Linked DNA regions of Homo sapiens: region 1 is linked to region 2. A link means that fine-mapping ties the variant in region 2 to the expression of a gene that starts in the linked region. Tissue or cell type: monocytes. Region 2 holds a variant in brackets; the other region holds the start of a gene. All regions are shown on one strand. Distances are between the middles of the regions.

Region 1 (10,781 bases), 38 kb before region 2:
AGGAGTTCAAAACCAGCCTGACCAGCCATGGCAAAACCCCTATCTCTCCTAAAAATACAAAAATTAGCTTGGCATGGTGGTGCATGCAAGAGAATCGCTTGAACCTGGGAGGCAGAGGTGGCAGTGAGCCGAGAGATCGTGCCACTGCACTCTAGCCTGGGGACACAGCGAGACTCAGTCTGAAAAAAAATAAAATAAAATAAAATAAATGACCTCTCCAAGTATAGCCAGGATTGGGAACCACAGTGCTAAACACATAAAAACAAACTAGTCTTTATCCCCAGCTTTTTACAAAAATCTAACTTTTAAAAATGAAACACAAAAATCTAAATGTGTTATTTCTGTTAGTAAACCTGTCTTTGAAATCCAAGGCAGCAATAACTCCTTAAAGACTAATTCATCTTTGTTATTTTATCAAGAGAAAAATGTTATTCTTGCAGGTGAAAATGGCTAAACTGAAGTTGAAAGGAATGAGTCATCACTGATGCAGGAAGACAATTTAAATCTACTGTTTACATGACAGTAACATACTACAATGGTTGCATTATTTTACCAAATACATTTTATTGGATTAGCACTTTATTCAGTTAGACACTTCATAAAATAATCCACAATTAACAATCAGATAAGGTAATAAAATGGAGAGGAGGAAGAGATGATCCTAAACAGGAATTCTAAAGATGTTAAAATGGGTTTAAATAGAAAAGTTTTTCCTTTATGTGAGGACTAGCAGTGAACACTTTATTTAGCAATTTCTCTTAAGAATATCCTAAAAATGTTTTAAATTTTTTAAAAATAAATCTTCCAGAAGAGATATCTCAGAAAATAGTCCTAAAATGACTAAAATGTTATTTCCTTTTGTAAACAATTTTCTTAACATCTTCAGATGAATTTGAACTCTCCTCTAGTGCCATCCCAACTGTGTTTAGATGGAATGATAGTAACTTTGAGAAGATCTATAAACCTTAAAAGTTGAGTGAGTAGTACGGTTTTCTCTCCACAAAAAGGTTTAGCTATAGAACTTAAGATAATGTCAGTGTTCTTGTTCCACAATTACCTTAGATCACCTACTTTAGAAAACACACACATTTTTCCCCCTAAAGGTAAGGAAGCACTGCAATCAACACCACTATTACTGGCCTCAATACCTCTAGTGGGACACAGTTGCTAAGAATGGACCAACAAAGAATCTTGAGTGCTACTTGGGAAAGTTTTACCTCTTCTGAAGGGGACTTCAATCTCAAAGCCAGTTTCAGCCTATCTTGCTATTTATTTCCCGGCTGTCTCCTAAGATGACTGCACATCTATATAATTCTACTGGTTAGGTTGATTTCTTCGCTTGGTAAAAAAATCTTATCACAGCTTTTAATGTTTTAAAGAGTCTGACTTAATCCTATTTCCATTTCTACACTCGTGCTGAAAGATGTTGCAGCTGCACTTCAGATCACATAAATCATATCTGAAAACTGATTATAAATAAAATCACTTTAAATACACTAGGAAAGTTTACCATTTAAGTAAGTAATCCTATTAATAATCCTTCATTTAAAAATATTTTTAATCTGGATTTTCAAATATTTAAGAGAATGGGAACTAACATTCTTTGCCTATTTTTAGGCACTTAAATTATTCCCCTTAATCCCCACAGGCCTGGGGAGATTTGTATTATCCCCATTTTACAGATAAGGAAAACGACTTAGAAAGATTAAAAATTTACCTTTGACCCAGGACTAACCCCAGAGACCCAACTCTATCACACTGCTTCAAATTTACATAAAACAGTTAACAGCACAAATACTGAAATCATTTGACCTAGGTCCCAGTGTCAGCTGCAACATCATCCAGATAAGTAATCACAGGCCAGAAACTATTCTTTTTAGGCCTCAACTTTCTCATCAATAAAATGGGAATACTGACCTTGCAAAAAGTTCAGGGATGACCCAATGAATAGGATGTTTGTAAAAATACAATGAGCCATGGATTATCAAACAACAGTATTACCCTTACTTACTAGGTGTGAAAAAGCAGGAGATACACAGGGATTAAGGGTTACATATCTTTGGATTGTTTCACTTGGTATGAACAATACTGTTTTATAATTTAAGAAAATTTTTAAGGTAAAATAATTTTAAAATGCTAAAATGTTATATAAATGTAAGGCATCAACTACTTTACCAAACCAAGCCTTCCAGAATCTTAAACAAAATAGGTTAGACTGAAAAGCCTTTTAACAAGGCTTGTTGTTTATTAAATACTTTCAATTATAAAACAATTTATTCTGAACATTTTTGCCATTAAAATCCCACAACCCACTTACTAAATTATTTTGCACAAATACTTCTTACAGGTGAAAAGGCTGGATTATTTTGTTAATCCTTACTATGGTTTGAGGAAAACTAGTTGGCACCTTTCCAGTTCAGATGCATGTGGTCAAAGTAACATAAGCAGGCTGGTATGAAACTTAAAAGATCTTGGAGTCCATGGATATCTGAATCACTCCACAGTAAGATGGTATTTCAGAGGAGGAAGAAAATTCTTTCTTTCATACACATACTAAAGGGCTTTCCATGTTTTTGTGAAGGCCACAAATGGAAAAAACTACCACTGGCAGAAAAAACACAACACTGTGGTATCAAGTACACTGCCAAAGTTCCAATTGAAGCAATTGAATGTTGGTGTTTTTTTTTTAAATCACTTGCAAGCATTTTGGCATCTGGAGTAAAAGAAGTTGTTCCTATTAGTTTGTAATCCAAGTAAGGGTCTTATTTCCTCAATTAAATTTGCATAAATTTATCCTGAATACATAATTTTCCTTATGATGAATACTGTATTTTCATGCAAATATCTACAATTAATGTAAAGTTCCAATTTACTTTCTTCTTTACTAGTGACCAAATACTATATGGCACCTTCAACTTGTTGAACCCTACATCATATAACTTAGATGATTACTGACTCTATGCATATTTTTCCAAGCTTTTAAAAGCAAAATGTGGCCAGGTGCGGTGGCTCACGCCTGTAATCCCACCACTTTGGGAGGCTGAGGTGGCCTGATCACCTGAGGTCAGGAGTTGGAGACCAGCCTCACCAACATGGTGAAACCCCATCTCTACTAAGAATACGAAATTAGCCGGCCATGGTGACACATGCCTGTAATCCCAGCTAGTTGGGAGGCTGAGGCAGAAGAATTGTTTGAACCCGGGAGGCGGAGGTTGCAGTGAGCTGAGATCGCGCCATTGCACTCCAGCCTGAGCAACGAAAGTGAAAAAATAAAATAAAATAAATAAAATAAAAGCAAAACCTATCAAAGCTGCATCTCCTGGCTTGAAACCAACCAAATGTTTAATATTCAATTACTTTTATTAAAGTATACTATTAAGAAGTACAATACTAAGAAACTAGAATATCTTACTAAAAAGCAAATTAAATAACTATGAAATAACCCTAGCACCAAACCTTCAAACTACAGTTTGACAATTTAATGGGAGAAAAAAAATCAGTAGTATAAAAAAACTATGATATTTTAAATAAGTGTAAATTTTAAAATCTATGAATAGCAAAGACGATATTCTTTTATAGCTATGACATCATTCAAGAATTAAAGTCTTGGCAATGCCTATCATTATAGTCTACCATTTTGCTATGTAAATTTTAACAATTTTTATATGCTAAAGAGCAATCAAATGATAAATTCGATAGCACAGACTAATATCTCAAAATCTCTGTTCAAAAGCCAGTTTGATTCTAACTGTGAGATGTCATGATTTAGAAGCACTCCAAGAGTCAGGGCAAGGTAGGGTCTCAATAGGGTTCTGGAGCTGTTGTAGGTCAACTGTGATTTGATCTGGGGTTTTCTTTAGACTCCTTGCCAAACTAAGGCTGGATTCACAGGCCCAAAGACAAATGAGAACCAGACTGGCCTTGAAGGGGATGCTGCAGCTTTTTCAAATGAATTGAAAAATCTGAACATCAGATGATAGGGATTTCCGTCAGGTTGCAAATTTTATCTAAATATGTAGGAGCATTATCATCTTGTTCCAACATTTCTATCTCATAAAAAGCAAGGACATTAAAATTATAAAATTAAGCATGAGTAATACACAAAGAATAAACTAGAACACCAGGAAATAACATCGAAAATCCTCTAAACCTAGTGGGAAAAGTGAGCCAAAAAGAGTGCCAAGTTCTCCTGCAAGGCATTAGGCACGGATACCAATTTGAATTCCTGTACAAACCTACAAAGTCCCTGGAATCACTGCCTGGCAAACTAAGTTCCCATTCGACTGCAAAGCAACACTACCTACTCCTTCGTATTTCCAAATAGACCATGTGTATCGGCTCAGACAACAGAATATTTTAAATCTATTCCTTGAGCTAAAGGATACCATTTAAAGCTAACGATCCTGTGAATAAGATACTACACTGGTCAAATTTTAGGCTTTTTCTTTATAAATACATCCAAAGGCCAGCTAACTCTTAACCGTTGTTTGCATTCGGATTCCTGGTCTGATGACTCTTAGGGGCAATCAATGGGAAGTGAAGTTGAGAAGAAGGTGGGTGCAGACGGCTTTATAACTGTAAAAGTAAAGGACTAGCTAAAAGTGGCCGAACAGAGGAGCTGACACTCGGGAAAGTGAAGGTCGGGGAAGGTTCGTGCGGTTGTTAAAGCAAGACCGGGAAAGGGCAAACCTGGAAGAGGAGTGAAGGACTCTACTTCACGGGACGCAAGATAGGAAGTGCAGGTTAAGCAAGCGCGCAGGTGGGGAAGGGTGTTGGCCTCCCCTAGGATGGAAAGAGTTCAGGTGGGAATTAGAAGGAAACAGCCAAGACTTCACAGAAAACCTGTTTGAATAAGGAGGAGGGCGTGAGGTGACGCCAAGGCATTGTGGGGAACTCGGCTCACACACTACCAGTCCCAACTGAGCAGGAGAAACCCAGCAGGAAATGGCTCTGCTGGCGCAGAGGCAAGCGTTGCCAGCCCCTGCGCTCGCTGCTGGGGCTGCGCCCTCGGAGGTTACCTTTGAGCTGGGGCAGCGGGTGCAGCTCTGCCTGGCTGCCCTGGCTGCGAAACTGCGACGAGCCCTGGGAGCGCTTCTGCCTCTGCGCCTTGCGGACCGATTTCCGGGTGAAGCCGTCCACTTTCTCCGAGGCCGAGATGGCGGCGCTGGCAGCCCCCGCCGGCGGCGACGACGACGACATCTCCGCGGCCCTGACGCTTGGCAGCTCCGGCTGCTGCTTGCAAGGCACGGGCAGCGGCGGAGACGGCAGGAGGAGGCGGGGGAGAGGCGCGGGGTGCTCGCGCCCCTGCGCCCCGGCCCCACGGCCCTCCGGCCCCGGGACGCCGCCGAGCTTCTCCTCGCCGCCCGCCAACGCCTCACGGCCACATCTCAGCGCTGGAGGTTCCTGGTCCCCGGCGCGCGGCGAGCTCCCGGGGCTGACGGAGGGAAGGGCGGGGGCGGAGGGGGGTGAAGAAGTTGTTGACTCTGGGCGCGCAGAGCGGGTGGAAGAGAGCCCGAAGTTTAGACAACTGAGGCGGGGGCACGGGGGTGCGGGTGCCGAGCGCGCCTCTCGTCGCTTCTGCCCCCGTCGCCAGCCAGCCGGCCGGCCAGCACCTCAGCGGCCGCTGCCAGCGCAGCCCGCCCTGCCTGGAGCCTCCTCTCAGGGCGCTGCCATCGCGGGTCCCCTCGGAGCCACTGCCGCGGTGCCCGCTCTTCCCGGTCAACGCCGGCCCCTCATCGCCCGGGGCGCTGCCCCGTAGCCCCGGCCCTCTGCGTGCACACACTCGCTCCTTGCCGCGCTGGGCGGCCCGAACCCCCTCCCCCACGCGCCCGTCGGCCGCCCACGGAGAACCCCAGGCGAGCGACCGCTACAACTTGAGAAGGTGGTTGGTACAGGCGACTGGGGAGTGTGTGCGCGTGTGCGCGCGCCAGGGCGCGCGGCCCGGGGAGGGGCCTCGCAAGGGGTGGGAAGGAGGAGTTTGACTGACAACTTCCGCGGGGTCCCGCCCGCCTCTTGGTGCGGCGGCGGGGGAGGGGGCGGGAAAGCATGCCAGCCCTCTTAGCCAATCACACGGCTAAGCGGCAGCGACGGCGTGAGGTGCGGCCTCTTGAGGCAGAGGAGTGGGGCGGGCTGTGTGACGGGCTTCGGCCACAGCCAATCGTAAGTGAAGACGGCGAGCGGGGTGCCCCTGCGTCAGAACAAATGCGGCAAATCGCTTGGGAGGGAGGGGAAGCGCTCCTCCACCAGCGGGCATTTTTGCGCTCACGCGCGACTGCTCCAGGCTGTCATTGCTCTCCTGACCGTCTACGAGAAGACTGGGAAACTTGAGAGGGTGCGTTCAGAGAGCAAAATAGAGCGCCCCTTCCCTTCCCTCACCTCTCTGCTGGCCAATGAAGAACTGAAGCGATTGGTGGGGCGCCGGAGGGCTGGGGCGCGAAAGAGCGCCAGGTGTTACACCACTGAAAGGGGGCGCAGCAGAGGTCAGGTGGCGAGCAAGCAGTGTGATTGACGGGCGAGGGGCCCGGGGAAGGCGAGAAGGTGAGCTCGTCCAATCGTTGCGAGGTCTGGACACCTGGGCGGGTCTTGGCGCCTTACTGGCCCCAAACCGCAAAATTGGTAGTTGCGGAATAAATTTGTAGCTCTTGGGAGGTTCGGACTCCGCAACTCCAGAGAGCTACTCTCGCGTGGGGTTTGGGCAGTCTAGCATCTGCTGCTTCAAAGAGTTCTGCAAGTCCACGCCCTCTAAAAAGAGATTTCTCATTCCCAATTTAGTATCCTGCTAATTTTCACCCCTCCTTGAGCCAAAGGCCCTCAACTACTCCAACGAGAAGAGTACAAATTCATTGGTCAGTGGTGTGTGGATATGGAGGCTTGCCATGTACTCTTACCGGAATCTCTTTCTTGGAGATTCCGTCTAGATTTTGAATTTCTTAAGGACGAGGACTGGTCATCTTAGTTTTTCGTGCAGTGCTTTCCATACGGTGGCCGTTAATAATTATTAATCTGAACAGTCAGCCTCCCTTTGCGCCAATGGACCCAAATCTGTAATCCCCTCCCTCGAGCTCCAGACCTTTTCCTTTCAACATAATAAAAGTAATTGTCGTATATTTAAACGAAGCCACCTGATGCATATGTACAGAAGATTCCAAATTTGGCAGGAAGTTGAATTCTAGACCTAGAACCAAACATACTATCCTCAAAACATTTCCTCCTTCAGATTTGCTGGGCGGTGAAATTGTACATAATCCTCCCAGTCAAGGAGGTTCAAACCTCAGCAGCGTTTCTGACACTTTTCGCTTTCTCACATAGTCAAGCTCCAGATCATGTTAAATCTACTTTCACAATTGGCGTTTCTCCCAATGTGTACAAAGACCGCCAAACGTAGTTCACGGCTTTCAAACTCACTGCCACATCAATCTTTTAAGATCACTTTTATCTTACCTGCGTGTTTGAGGAACCACCCAATACCTGCAGAATAGAGTCCAAATTCAAGACTCTCTGCGATCTGACTCCTGTCTTTCCAAGTGTAAATTCCTACATGTGCCCACAAAAACTCTTTTTAGTTCAGGCACATCATTCCACATACTGATCCCCTAAAAGAAGTTATGCATCCTCAACACTTAGTCTTTGCTGTTCCAACATCTTGAAATAATCCACTTTTTTTTTTCTTTTTTGAGACGGAGTCTTGCTCTGTCACCCAGGCTGGAGTGCAATGGTGGCACAATCTCGGCTCACTGCATGCTCCGCCTCCCGGGTTCAAGCGATTCTCCTGCCTCAGCCTCCCGAGTAGCTGGGATTACAGGCACCTGCCACCACGCCCGGCTAATTTTTTGTATTTTTAGTAGCGACGGGGTTTCACCATGTTGCCCAGGCTTGTCTCGAACTCCTGACCTCGTGATTCGGCCACCTCCGCCTCCCAAAGCGCTGGGATTACAGGCGTGAGCCACCGCGCCCGGCCCATTTTTTTTTCATCTTTTTGAAATTTCTTTTCTTCAAACCCCCTATCTTTTATGAAGCTTGACAATCCAGCCAGAAGTGATGCCTCCCTTCTTTGTATTCCTATTGCATTTAGTGTCCACACCACTCACAGCTGAAAGTTTGTCAACACCAAGAGAGCAAGAACTCAGTTATTTTATTTTACACCTCTGTTTCCCCTACTGAGCAGAGGATAACAATCACATTTTTAGTTCTCAACAGCAGAATTTCTGAAAGCGTGGTTACTGGATCACCTGCATCAGCATCCTCTGGGGTGCTTATTGAAAATGCAGATTCCTGGACCTCCCCCGCCTCCCCCCAACAGAACTAGAACCTATGGGAAGAGCACTGAGAAGTCTATTTTTAATAACTTCCCTAGGTTATTCTTATGTACACAAAAGTTTGGAACTACTATTCTCTAGTCATCTAGAAGTTATTAAAAACAGAATGTAAATGTCTGTAAGTCAGGAGTAGTACTATTTATAATAATTTACATAAAATAAGAAAGGGAGACAAATAGCAGAAAGAAAATCAGTACAGGCCGGGCGCAGTGGCTCACGTCTGTAATCCCAGCACTTTGGGAGGCCGAGGTGGGTGATCACGAGGTCAGGAGTTTGAGACCAGCCTGGCCAACATGGTGAAACCCTGTCTCTACTAAAAATAAAAAATTAGCCAGGTGTGGTGGTACGAGCCTGTAGTCCCAGCTACTCAGGAGGCTGAGGCAGAAGAATCGCTTGAACCCGGGAGGCGGAGGTTGCAGTGAGCCAAGATTGCGCCACTGCACTCCAGCCTGGGTGACAGAGTGAGACTCCGTTTCAAAAAAGAAAAAAAAAAAAAGAAAAGAAAAAAATAAATACAATAAAGCAAATTCTGTAAGTCAATACAATAAATCATATTCCATGTTCATACTGGAATGTGATAAATAATAGATACTGGATATAATAGAAAATACTGGAAACAAGTTTTTGGGAGTCTTGGAACCAGCAAAAACCATCTGGGCTTTGGTGAAACAGCCTCTTGGGGAAGAATTTTGAGCATAATTTTAAAGATCAAGTCAAAACCTGAAAAGAGAGGATGGCATTCCAGATCAAGTCACTAAGCATTTTCCAGGGGGAAGAACAAAAGCCCAAGAATCAAAATGCCTGACTCTGTGCTACTTATCAATAGAATGATTCTGTCCAGTCACTTTTTCCACATGTGTACATCAGAAAAAAAAAATGACAACCTTCTTCACAGGGCTGGCATGAGTTTTAAATATGACCCAAGAAAAAACACTCAGGGAAATAAAAATTATGTAGATGAAAATATTATGCATACATGTATATCAAACGTTTATTTTCCGTCCACTATTTTGAGTAAATAAGGTATCTGGGTCCTAGACAGAGATTTGGTCACTAAGAATCATCTAATAGGAAACTGCAATGACAGTACTAATCTATATGTGCCCCTGAAGCAGGAAGAGTGTCTTTGATTCCATGCCATAGAATTTCTGATCCTTCCCATATGTGAAGCTCCTTGGTCAAGAGCAATTTAGAGGCCAGGATTGCATCACTAACAAATTCCTTGGATGGTTTGTGCTTACATTACTTAACTTCCTTAGTTTATAAACGTATATACACTTACTGACCTTATCCTTTTGTTGAGAAAAATGATGCGAGAAAAAGTAATATCCACAACATCAAAATAATGGTTGTGTAATGGTTTTAAAGAGCACATCACAGAGAGTGTTCTTTTCAAATCACTGTGAAATTCTCTAAAGCATATCCAAGCAAAGTTTTGACTGTCAACATTCTCTTTCCTTAAGAGTCATGATTCCCAAACTGCTCCAATAGAACACCAGACCAAGGTGCCGGATCTACAGAATCAAAGAGTGGTAGTATTTTCCAAATTTACACAAAACTTCTCTCATGATCAGGCACAGTGGCTCATGCCTGTAATCCCAGCACTTTGGGAGGCCAAGGCCGGAGGATCACTTGAGCCCAGGAATTCAAGACCAGCCTGGGCAATGTGGCAAAACCCCATCTCTACTAAAAATACAGAAAATTAGGTGGCGGTGGGGGTGTGCACTTGTAGTCCCAGTGACTCAGGAGGCTCAGGTGGGAGAATCACCTGATGCCAGGAAGTCGAGGCTGCAGTGAGCACTGATGGTGCCACTGCACTCTAGCCTGGGAGAAAGAGTGACACTTTATCTCAAAAAATAAAAATAAAAAATATCTCATATCTTTTAAAAATGTTTGCATCTTACTACCACTTTACTAGAATCTAAATCAAGATAGTATCTGACTTATAAAAATACACTAATTTTTAGTGCCTCATTTCTATTTATTTAAATACATTCTCATTATTTAAAATTCAGAAGGAGTAAAAGGGCAACAGGAAACGTCTCACTCCCACCCCTGCTTCCCAACATCTGGTTCCCCGCTTTGGGGACAACCACTGCTATCAGTTTCTTATATATGTTTCCAGAGATATAATGTGTTTAATTGCTTAAGGCTTAGCAAAGTCACACTTCAAGAAGCTGCAGGAGAGAGCACCAAATCCTAACTGCTATTCCAGCAAGGAAATTAATATTGTTAAAATGTTCATCCAAAGCAATATATAGATTTATCCAAAGCAATATATAGATTTAACCCAGTCCCTATCAAAATTCCAGTGGCATTCTTTACAGAAATAGAAAAAACAATAAAATTCATTTGCAACCACAAAAATTCCCAAATAGCCAAAGCAATACTGAAAAACGAAAAGTTAGAGGTATCATACTTCCTGATTTAAAAGTATATTACAAAGCTATAGTAATCAAAACAGAA
Region 2 (10,781 bases):
GCCTGTAGAATGTCCTACATTCTGGATCTGCCCTGTGGTATCATTTATAGCCTACTCATTACAATCCTAATACCTTGTCTTGATCTTTTTTTTTTTTTTTTTTTTGAGACAGAGTCTGATTCTGTTACTGAGGCTGGAGTACAGTGGTGGGATCTCAGCTCACTGCAACCTCCACCTCCCAGGTTCCTGCCTCAGCCTCCTGAGTAGCTAGGATTACAGGTGTGTGCCACCACGCTTGGCTAATTTTTGTATTTTTAGTAGAGGCAGGGTTTCACCACGTTGGCCAGGCTGGTCTTGAACTCCTGACCTCAGGTAATCCTCCCACCTCAGCCTCCCAAAGTGTTGAGATTACAGGCATGAGATACTGTGCCCAGCCTTGATCTATCTTTGATCTAACTCTTGTATATGTAATTATAGAGTCCCAAAGAAAAAGTCTCGTGTGTGAGTATGTGCAAATGAATGTGTGTGTGTGCGTGTGTGTGTGTGTGTGTGTGTTTGGCTTCAACGTTACAGTTTTCCACATACTACATCCTCAATAAACACCTGCTGAACAACATTTATTAAGTCTACTACCTGAAGAATTGTGTACTAGGGAGAGATACAGAGAAAAAAGGAGACAGATTCCTAACCTTGGTGTTTCTAGTCCTGTTTATACAGGACAGTGGTTCTCAAACTTGAGAAGGCTTATTAAAAACACAGACTGCTGGGTCCTACCCCCAGAGCTCCTGATTCAGTAGGCCTGGGATGAGTCCTGAGAATCTGCATTTCTAATAAGTTTCCCAGATGCTGCTGCTGGCCCAGGGGTCAATCTTTGAGAACCATTACTATCAGACATGAGCTTCAAAAAGTCTCCCACAGCCTCTGGTGCCCAGGCCACTTACAGAGTACTGATTCCCTAGGCTGCCACTTCTGAAGTCTCTCTGAACTCAGTGAGTGGCCTGATTGTCCAAACTTTCTGGTAGGAAGGAGCTACTTTGAAGATATGTCCTCCTGGTGGAGAGGAGTAAGATGATGGTGCTGACAGTAGGGTCCAAAAGTGGCTTCCTGATACAGATGAAAAGGGTCATCTAGGTTCTTTGAGTACCAAAAAGCCTGAGAGGCATGATGGGCAGCAAAAGCCTTTCCCAGGCTAGATACTGACAGCTTTGAGCAAGGGTCTCAGGGTATAAAGGGTATGCTTGCTCCTTTGCCTCCTACAGTTATTCATGCCATCCCTGCACAGGACTACCGCAGGGCAAGATGTGACTGAGGCTTTTTGCCACTGCTTCTGCTCCAGTATCTGCCATCTAGATATGGAATGAAAAGATGGCCTTTGGAAGCAGTGGGCAAAATGAAAAAAACTTTAAAGTCTTTTAAGAGCATCCTATTAAATTGAATCAAAGTGACTAAGTAAAAAAATTTTGTTATTTTGCTCAATGCTCCCAACTAGACTTTTTTTCTATCCCAGGCTTATTTCCTTTCCTGTGGATAATAGTTGTTTCTTAGTTTTCCTTATAATTCCTGCTATTCTTTCTATCCCCTACCTTATTCCTGGGGGCAGATTCCTTTTCCTTCCATCCACCCCATATATTTGGACATTTCCCATGTTCTAAACTCAACCTTCATCTATTCTCACTAATAGACTCTCTTTGATAAACATCTACTTTTTTGGTTTCTTTTGAGACAGAGTTTCACTTCTGTTGCCCAGGCTGGAGCGCAATGGTACAATCTTGGCTCACCACAACCTCTGCCTCCCAGGTTCAAGCGATTCTTCTGCCTCAGCCTCCCGAGTAGCTTGGATTACAGGCATGCACCACCATGCTCAGCTAATTTTGTATTTTTAGTGGAGACGGGGTTTCTCCATGTTGGTCAGGCTGGTCTTGAACTCCCAACCTCAGGTGATCCCCTCAGCCTCCCAAAGTGCTGGGATTACAGGCATGAGCCACTACGCCCAGCCCATTATCTACTTTTATAGCTTCAACTTTCCACTCATATGTTCATGGCTCCCCAAAAAAATACCTCCAGCCCAGACCTCTTTCTTGAGCTCAGACCATCATGCCAACTTCCTGCTGGATGTCTCCACCCGATGACCCACAGGTACCTCCAACTCAGTACATCTAATCCAACTTATTTTCTCCATCCCAATACTTACTTCTTATCCCCTTGCTTTATATCCTATCCCTGTTTCTCCAAACTCAGTGATGGCATCAACATCTCTCGAGTTGTTCAAGCTTGAAATCATGGAGTTCTCTTCAATTATTCTCTTTTCCTCACCTACTCTCTTGAAATATCTGGATAATGCATAATCTTCTTGCAATCTCCCCTGCCTCTGACTTAGTTCCAATCCTTATCATCTCTTTCCTGAGTCACTGCAGTGTATTAATGATAGCTGCTATGTATTGAATGCTTACTCTGTGTCAGAAACAGTGCTCAAATCCTTATATACTATACTAACTACATCTGTTTTCTGCTGCTATAAAAGGATACCACAGGCTGGGTAGTTAATAAAGAAAAGAAATTTATTTGGTTCATGGTTCTGGAGGCTGGGAAGAGCAAGAGCATGGCACCAGCATCCAGCGAGGGCCTTGTGTTGCATTATCCCACGGCAGAAGGGCAAGAGAGTCTGTGAGACAAAGAGAAAGATGGGGCCTGAATTTATCCTTTTATCAGGAGCCTATTCCTGTGACAAATAGACCACTCCCATGGTAACAGCATTAATCTATTTATGAAGGTGGAGCCATAACTTAATCACCTTTTAATCACCTCTTAATCACCTATCTCTATGAGACCATCCTGAGCAACGTAGCAAGACCCTGTCTCTGCAAAAAAGAAATGTGAAAATTAGCCAGGTATGGTGATGTGCATCTGTGGTCCCAGTCTCAGTTGGGAGGCTGAGATGGGAGGATTGCTTGAACCTGGGAGGTCAAGGCTGCAATGAGCCATGACTACACCATTGCACTCCAGCCTGGTCAACGGAGTGAGTCCCCCATCTCAAATAAATAAAAAATAAAGGTTTTACCTCTTAAACTGTTTAATTGCAATTAAACAGATATTTTTGCCAACAGCAATCAAATTTGTTTTCAAGGGGTTATTCAAACCATACATATACCTTATATTTTTCCTTTTTGTTTGACTGTTTTATAATAAATATTATATCATAATTACTAATCAATGGGGTAACTATTATCATCCCCATTTTATAGGTGAGAAAACCAAAGGCTTAAAAATACTAAGTAACTGGCTGGGCGCAGTAGCTCGTGCCTGTAATCCCAGCCCTTTGGGAGGCCAAGGTGGGTGGATCACCTGAGGTCAGGAGTTCGAGACCAGCCTGGCCAACATGATGAAACCCCATCTCTACTTAAAAAATATAAAAATTAGCTGGGCGTGGTGGTGCACACCTGTAATCCCAGCTACTCAGGAGGCCGAGGCAGGAGAATCGCTTGAACCCGGGATGCGGAGGTTGCAGTGAGCCGAGATCACGCTATTGCACTCCAGCCTGGACAAGAGCAAGACTTTGTCTGAAAACAACAATGACAACAACAACTAAGCTTGCCCAAGATCTCCTGCTTTCTGGTAAGTTGTGGAGACAAGAGCCTGTGTTCTTAAACACTGCCATGTAGTGATGTGGTCCCAACGTTGGTGGCACTCTAGAATCACCTGGGGAGCTTTTAAAGACTACCATTTTCCCAGCCTCAACCCAGACTAACTGAATCAAAATCTCTGAGGGTTTGGCCTGCACCTGAGTATTTTTTTAAAACTTCTTTAGGTGATTGTCATAGGCAGTCAATACTGAGAACCCTTGCATTACTGTTTGTATGCATAACCGCTTTCTCTACTCCAATCCCACTCCACTCTGAATCTTCCTCCAGACTGCTGTCTAATTGTTCTTTTAAAGCACCACTGTGATGATGCAACTGTCCTGCTCATGCAGCTGCAGTGGTTCCCCTCTGCCTATACAATAGGGGCCAACATCCTCAGTGGAGCAGCCGGACTCTTCTCAGTTTGCATGCCCATCTGTGAGCCACCCTTCCGGTACTGTTTTTT[G/T]TGTGTGTGTGTGTGTGTTTTTGAGACGGAGTCTCGCTCTGTCGCCCAGGCTGGAGTGCAGTGGCGCAATTTCAGCTCACTGCAACCTCCGCCTCCCGGGTTCACGCCATTCTCCTGCCTCAGCCTCCCGAGTAGCTGGGATTACAGGCGCCCACCACCACGCCCGGCTAATTTTTGGTATTTTTAGTAGAGTCAGGGTTTCACCGTGTTAGTCAGGATGGTCTCAATCTCCTGACCCTGTGATCCACCCGTCTCGGCCTCCCAAAGTGCTGGGATTACAGGCATGAGCCACTGCGCCCGGCCTTTTTTTTTTTTTTTCTTGAGACAGAGTCTAACTGTTGCCCAGGCTGGAGTGCAATGGTGCAATCTTGGCTCACTGCAACCTCCACCTCCCGAGTTCAAGCGATTCTCCTGCCTCAGCCTCCCAAGTAGCTGGGCTTACAGGTGCCCACCACCACGCCTGGCTAATTTTTTGTATTTTTAGTAGAGACGGGGTTTCACCATGTTGGCCAGGCTGGTCTCAAACTCCTGACCTCAGGTGATCCACCCACCTCGGCCTCCCAAAGTGCTGGAATTACAGGCATGAGCCAAAGACCTTCCCTTACTCTTTACCTGCAGCTACACCACACACTTAAGATTTCCAATACCCTTGCACATGTTATTTGCTCAGCCTAAAGTGGCCTTTTCCCCTTCCTTCCCATCCTACCCAACCTTAACTCCCAACAAACAGCTCCTCCTTTTCCTTTGAGACACAGTTACAATGTTATCTCTACAATTTCCTCAGGTAGTATTAATGGATTCCCTTTTGTTCTCTTTGTAATTTGCCTAATTACTCTGAATTGCCATCATTTACTTACACATTTGTCTCCTTCAAAAGACTTTGAGCCTCAAGAAGATCTGTGTCTTGTATGGATTTTTATGGCCTAGTCCATGTCAGGTACTCAGTAAATGATGAAAGAATAACCCTTGCCCAGCTGTGCTGCCTACTGTCACCTGGTTTTATCAAGCAGTGGTCAAGAACAGAGTCCCCAGAGTCAGATGAGTCCAAATCCCAGTTCCATTCCCTTACTAGCTGTGTGGCCACCCACTTGAGACTAACCTTATCTACCCTCTCTCTGGCTTAGTCTTCTCATCTGTAAAACGGGGATAATGATAGTACCTACCTCATAAAGTGGCCATGAGAATTAAGTGAGGTTAATCTATATCAAGGGACAAGGGACCAGCACAGTACTTAGCACACAGCAAGCACTCACTCTCCATTCTTATTATTATTAGCTTAGAAAACAGCCTTCCAATATATTGATAACACTTATAGAAAATTACGTGTGTGTGTGTGTGTGTGTGTGTGTGTGTGTGTGTAGAAATACATGGGAAAGTGTCCACTAAAGTGATATTTTATGGTTTTTTAACTTACATTTTTCTTTACTGTTTGACTGTTTCACAATAAATATCAATTTTTATATGTACACTTAGCCACTTTAACTCCCAGAATACACCCATACATACACACAAACACTCCAATCCATAATATGCATATACAAACCCCACCAGCACACAGACACAACCACATAAACTCCCTCAGGAGGCAGAAACTCTGAGTTCAGATGTGACTCAAGCTCAGGGACATTGAAAACATGCCTACATAGTGGGAATGTTTAGACTTTAGGCCATCTCTGGCTCACAGCCAGTAGCGGGGAGCAGGCACTCCACCAGCTCTGGAATAAGAAAGTGGCATTCCTATCCATCCAAGCCTTCAAGTAAACACCCAACCTGGGTGTCTGGAGACAGACCCCCTTATGAAATGCAGGCCGTGGAGGAGAGACCCATCTATGCTGATTTCTCTCGCGGGGTGGAAGTGTGGAGGTGAGGAGCGGAGGGCTGGACCCGCCGCACAATACACAGAAGAATGCTGGGAAGTTAACTATCTCTCAGACCGTGCTGTTCAGAGGAAAAGGAACTGTCTAACTACTGTCAGAAAATGATTTATTTTTAGTCCCAAAAGCTTAGGAAATGCTAGAACTGGATGGTTGGAGCTAAATCCTACATTTTAATTGGAACTTCCTTTTTCTTTCACTGAAAAAGAAAACTTGTAATGACTTTTGAACTGGCCTTAGTGCTTAGACTACAATTTCACTATAGTTTTATATCAAATGTATTATCATAATTAGCCTACTCCATGTTAGAGTGTATTGTGACCAAGAAAAATCAGATGCCATAATGACTTCCAGAAATCAAATCTGCTTTTCTGTTGCCTCAGAAATGAGGCAAATCTTTGGACCCAGGTACCAACCCTGACATTTGGAGAAGAATCTGGGAAGATCCGTAGCAAACAGAACAGAACCCTATCCAGGGTTGAAGACTCTCATAGGGTGGGCACCAGTGCCAGGCCCCTGGTGTATACCCAGTTTGGAGTCAGGTAGGGAAATCACAGCATCAGGAAGAACCTATAGCTCCCCGACTCAAGGCAGCAAAGAAAGGGGGGAATCCCTTTGCTTAAAAAGACATGGTCTCAGGTTCTGTGTGGTGGCTCATGCCTATAATCCCAGCACTTTGGAGGCTGAATCGGGTGAATCACTTGAGGCCAGGAGTTCGAGACCAGCCTGGCCAATATGGTGAAACCCTGTCTCTACTAAAAATACAAAAAAATTAGTCAGGCGTGTGCCTGTTGTCCCAACTACTTGAGAGGCTGAGACAGGAGATTTGCTTGAACTCGGGAGCGGAGGTTGCAGTGAGCCGAGATCTCGCCACTGCACTCCATTGAAACAATTAGAAGAAAGAATCTAGCATTCTATCTTTGTATGTGGAGATCCTGTGTTGAAGTTTGCAGAAATATGTAACTGACCAGGGCTACCATGTACAGACACGGAGGTTGTACAGTATGTGATCTATACAACCCACCTTCCACACTTAGAATGTGTGCTGCACAACTTAGCACTGAATTCTATACTGTCTCATGTAACACAGATGATCCCAATCATCACCAGGCAAATGAGAAACAATTCAGGCAATAAATGAAGAGAAAGTAGCATTAACAACAAATATTTTACTAACTTGCAACTTCCTCTTGTGAATCAGGACCTCAGCTTTTCTTCTGCCACCTCAAATTTCCTAGTTCTTTCTTTTCTAAAATTGAGGTTTACGTATGTAATTACATATCATAAAATGTGCCATTTTAAGGTGTACAACTCAGCGGCTTTTAGTATTTCACAACTCTGTACAACCATCACCACTATCTAGTTCCAGAATATTTTCATCACTGAAAAAGATAACCCCCTACCCACAAAACAGTCACTTCCCATTAATTCCCATCTCCTCCCAGCCCCTGGCAACCATTAATTTGCTTTCTGTCTCCATGGCTTTGCCTGTTCTGGACATTTCATATAAATGGAACCAAACAGTATATGGCCTTTTATGACTGGCTTCTTGCCTTAGCATGTTGTCAAGGTGCATCTATGTGGTTGTATGTATCAGTGCTTCATTCATTCTCCCAGTTATTTCTGGGCATCCCAGATGATGGTTCTCATGCACTCAGGCCTAAGTCTGCTCATGCACATCTGCCCCCAAGAAACCACCTGGAAGAAAGGCCTCGAAGCTGCTCCCTCTGCCTACTTTAAGGATGTCATTTTCCCACATGGGTTCCATCTCCTGGTATTTTTCAAACTGGGAACCCTGAGGTGTCAAGTGATATTCAGTTACCATCAGTCCTCTCCCCTCTGCACTAGAGATACATTCTGTGCAGACCTGGGAACACTGTCTCTCCCTGCTTGAGTGCTGCCCATTTGCATTACTATTAAAAAAAAAACCTGGGGCTGGGTAATTTATAAAGAAAAGAAGTTTGATTGGCTCACACTTCTGCAGACAGTACAAGGAGCGTGGTGCTGGCATCTGCTTCTGGTGAGGGTCGCAGGAGGTTTACAATCATGGTCGAAGGTGGAGGGGGTGCAGGTGCCTCACATGGCAAGAGCAGGAGCAAGAGAGCGAGCCAGGGGAGGTTCCACACACTTTTGAACAACCAAATCTCATGAGAACTCTCTATTACTAGGACAACACCAAGCCATGAGGGATTCTCCCCGATGACCCAAAGACCTCCCACCAGGCCGCACCTCCAACACTGGGAATTACATCTCAACATAAGATTTGGAAGGGACATGCAAACTGTATCACCGGTCCTTAGGAAGGCACCATCTTCAGCTTTTAATTACGTCTCCTTCTGGTGTCTGAAGACAGGCCTGCTCTTCCACTCCCCCATCTCTCTCACTCACTCTGATCCTAGAGACTTGGGTTGGGAGGGAGCCCAAGACAAAACAAACTCTCTGTCTTCAGCTAGGTTCCCTCAGAAGCACATCTTAAGACAAGAATTGGTGTGGACGTGATTTTTTTTAGGATGTGTTCCCAGGAAAAAACAGTAGGGGTGTGAGAAGGTGGAATGAGGAATATGTGGAATCCAGAAAAAGATGTGGAATCCAGAAAAGGATATGGAATCAAGTGAAATCCCACAGAGGGTAACTTGAGCTCAGTCCCACAGGGCAGTGACAGTGTAAGTGAGACCTCAGAGTGGAGTGTTTACTCACTGCACCTGCCAGTCACTGGGTAAGGGCTGCTTTCCGGGTGTGTAAAGTCCAGACCCTTCAGCTCTCTGTGCCTTCATGCAAAGGGGGTCCTGGCAGCCTGAGAGCAGCCCTTTGACATAGAGATGCAAGTGCTGGCTGTTAGAAGTGAAAGCACACATTTCTGCTACACTGTTTCTCGAGGATTCTTTTTCCAACAAATATATCAGAACCTCCTACATCACAGTGCTGAGCACTTAGTATCTGTAATAGATAGATGGACAGAGAGAAAGAGAGAGAAGGAAAGAGAGAGCGAGGCTCCACTAGAGGCCTAAAAGTAAATTTTTACAGTCATAATTTTCTTTTGAATCATTTGAAAAAATAAGAGTACATTATATACATCTCTGGCTAACTCTTCCACTTACTGTACATACTTTGGCATGTGCAAAAGAAAATGAAACCAGTAGCTGCTAGATGGTTGATGTAAAGAAAGGAAACACAGGCCGGGCGTGGTGGCTCAGGCCTGCACTTTGGGAGGCCAAGGCGGGCAGATCACCTGAGGTCAGGAGCTCAAGACCAGCCTGGCCAACATGGTGAAACCCCGTCTCTACTAAAAATACAAAAATTAGCCAGGTGTGGTGGCACACGCCTGTAATCCTAGCTATTTGGGAGGCTGAGGCAGGAGAATCACTTGAACCTGGGAGGTGGAGGTTGCAGTGAGCTGAGATTGCACCATTGCACTCCAGCCTGGGCGACAAGAGCAAAACTTCGTTTCAAAAAAAAAAAGAAAGAAAGGAAGGAAACACAGACACTCAGGGAAATCTGTTTCATGAAGTTCCAGGTGACAAAGTTGATTGTCAACAAAGTGTCCAGTGTTTGATAAGCCAGGGATGCCTGATAATGTACTTCTCACCCTGGGTGTTGGAGGATCCCTCTCTGGTGTATGGAATGAATCTTATTTTCTTTCTTCTTTTTTTTTTTTTTTTTAGATGGAGTCTCTCTCTGTCACCCAGGCTGGAGTGCAGTGGCACGATCTCAGTTCACTGCAACCTCCACCTCCTGGGTTCAAGAGATTCTCCTGCTTCAGGAGAACCCAGGGAGCAGAGAACATAGCTCTGTAACTAACTTGGGAATGTTGTTGAGCTTCTTTGTTTTTCTCTTTCCTCAACTGTTTTGCCTCCCTCTCAAGGTTGATGTAAAGATGAAATCAACGGATATAAAAAGACTTTGAGAAACAAGGTATAATGTATTATTTTAAATGGTTTTTGGATTTTTACAAAGAAATATCAGTAATGGAGAGGAAAAGCTTAAAGAATGAGACTGAGAAGGTTCCCCTGAGTCCTCAGTGAAGTCTCAGTCTCAGTGGGAATTCACCATGACCCCAGATCTGGCCTGTGACTGTACATTCATTAACCTCACCATTAGCAGCTACTTTAGACCTTCCAGGCAACAGTTGGACTAATCACTAAAGGTCCATGAAGGGTCCTTGGCAGAACTAAGGTCAGGAGAGAAGGCAAAAGGGGAATACAAGATAGGCTGAGGGGGGGAAACAGATGAGAGAGAGAGAAGGCAGGGGTCTGGGGGAGGTGTGGGGGAGGTAAATGCATTAAGAAGTAAGGAGTAAAGAACAGAGAGGAAACAGAGGTGACCATGCTGGACAAGGGCAGACACCATTAGAAGCTCCTCCTGCGACATTCACAACCTGGGCTTCTACAGTAGAGGCCACATCAGCCACATACTCTTCACAGCCCTGTTCCCAACTCTCAACCTGCCTTTCCAAATCATTTAAGGGGAAAAGAGTGGGGAGGGTCTCCAAGAAAATCTGACCTTGACCCCCACAGCTCTCCAGCAGGTTTGGGCAGAAGGTGGCTAGAGAGCCCGGAAGCAGAGCCCTGATCTGGCCGGTAAACAGAAGGCCCTCAGTGAGCATGCCAGCCTGTAAGTTGTCCTTTTGTTTTGCAGGCTTTACCGAACACGGTTTTATTTCATGTGACTGTGCTATTTCAGGAGGAGTAAATATTGCCGGCGGTCTGTTTAAAAAGGCCAATGACCTGAAATGTTGTGGGGTTTTTTGTCTTTTCTTTTCCATTTGAATTATCTCCAAGAGGCAGGCTTGCCCAAGTATCGTGCAGTTTTAACTCACTGGCTTTTGGTTGTAACTTTCCCTTTTTGTCTCATGATATGCTGGACTGGAAAACAAGACAGCAAAGA

Alleles and levels. Positions count from the first base shown, and alleles are read on the strand shown. Sizes are in standard deviations (SD) of each study's normalised expression.
In carriers of allele G in region 2, the expression in monocytes of the gene that starts at base 5,900 in region 1 tends to be higher than with T alone (large effect, 0.87 SD a copy in BLUEPRINT).

The links.
Region 1: PPP2R5A starts here. The variant in region 2 is fine-mapped to the expression of PPP2R5A in monocytes (TOPMed, PIP above 0.99). The same link has a PIP of 0.9 or more in blood mononuclear cells and non-classical monocytes.

The regions. Positions count from the first base shown.
Region 1 is chr1:212,280,529-212,291,309 of GRCh38, reverse strand. PPP2R5A (protein phosphatase 2 regulatory subunit B'alpha) reads right to left here and starts at 5,900. Exons shown (of 13, transcript NM_006243.4): 1 at 5,019-5,900. The coding sequence starts at 5,199. It overlaps LINC02608 (long intergenic non-protein coding RNA 2608), which reads left to right and starts at 6,289. Exons shown (of 4, transcript NR_125984.1): 1 at 6,289-6,331. RefSeq lists a silencer at 5,168-6,137 and enhancers at 6,308-6,387, 9,654-9,823.
Region 2 is chr1:212,242,468-212,253,248 of GRCh38, reverse strand. All of the region lies in intron 1 of LINC02608 (long intergenic non-protein coding RNA 2608), which reads left to right. Among named protein-coding and RNA genes, the nearest start is that of LINC02608, 37 kb to the left of the region's middle. RefSeq lists a silencer at 145-391. The variant G/T (reference allele first, on the strand shown) is at 4,024.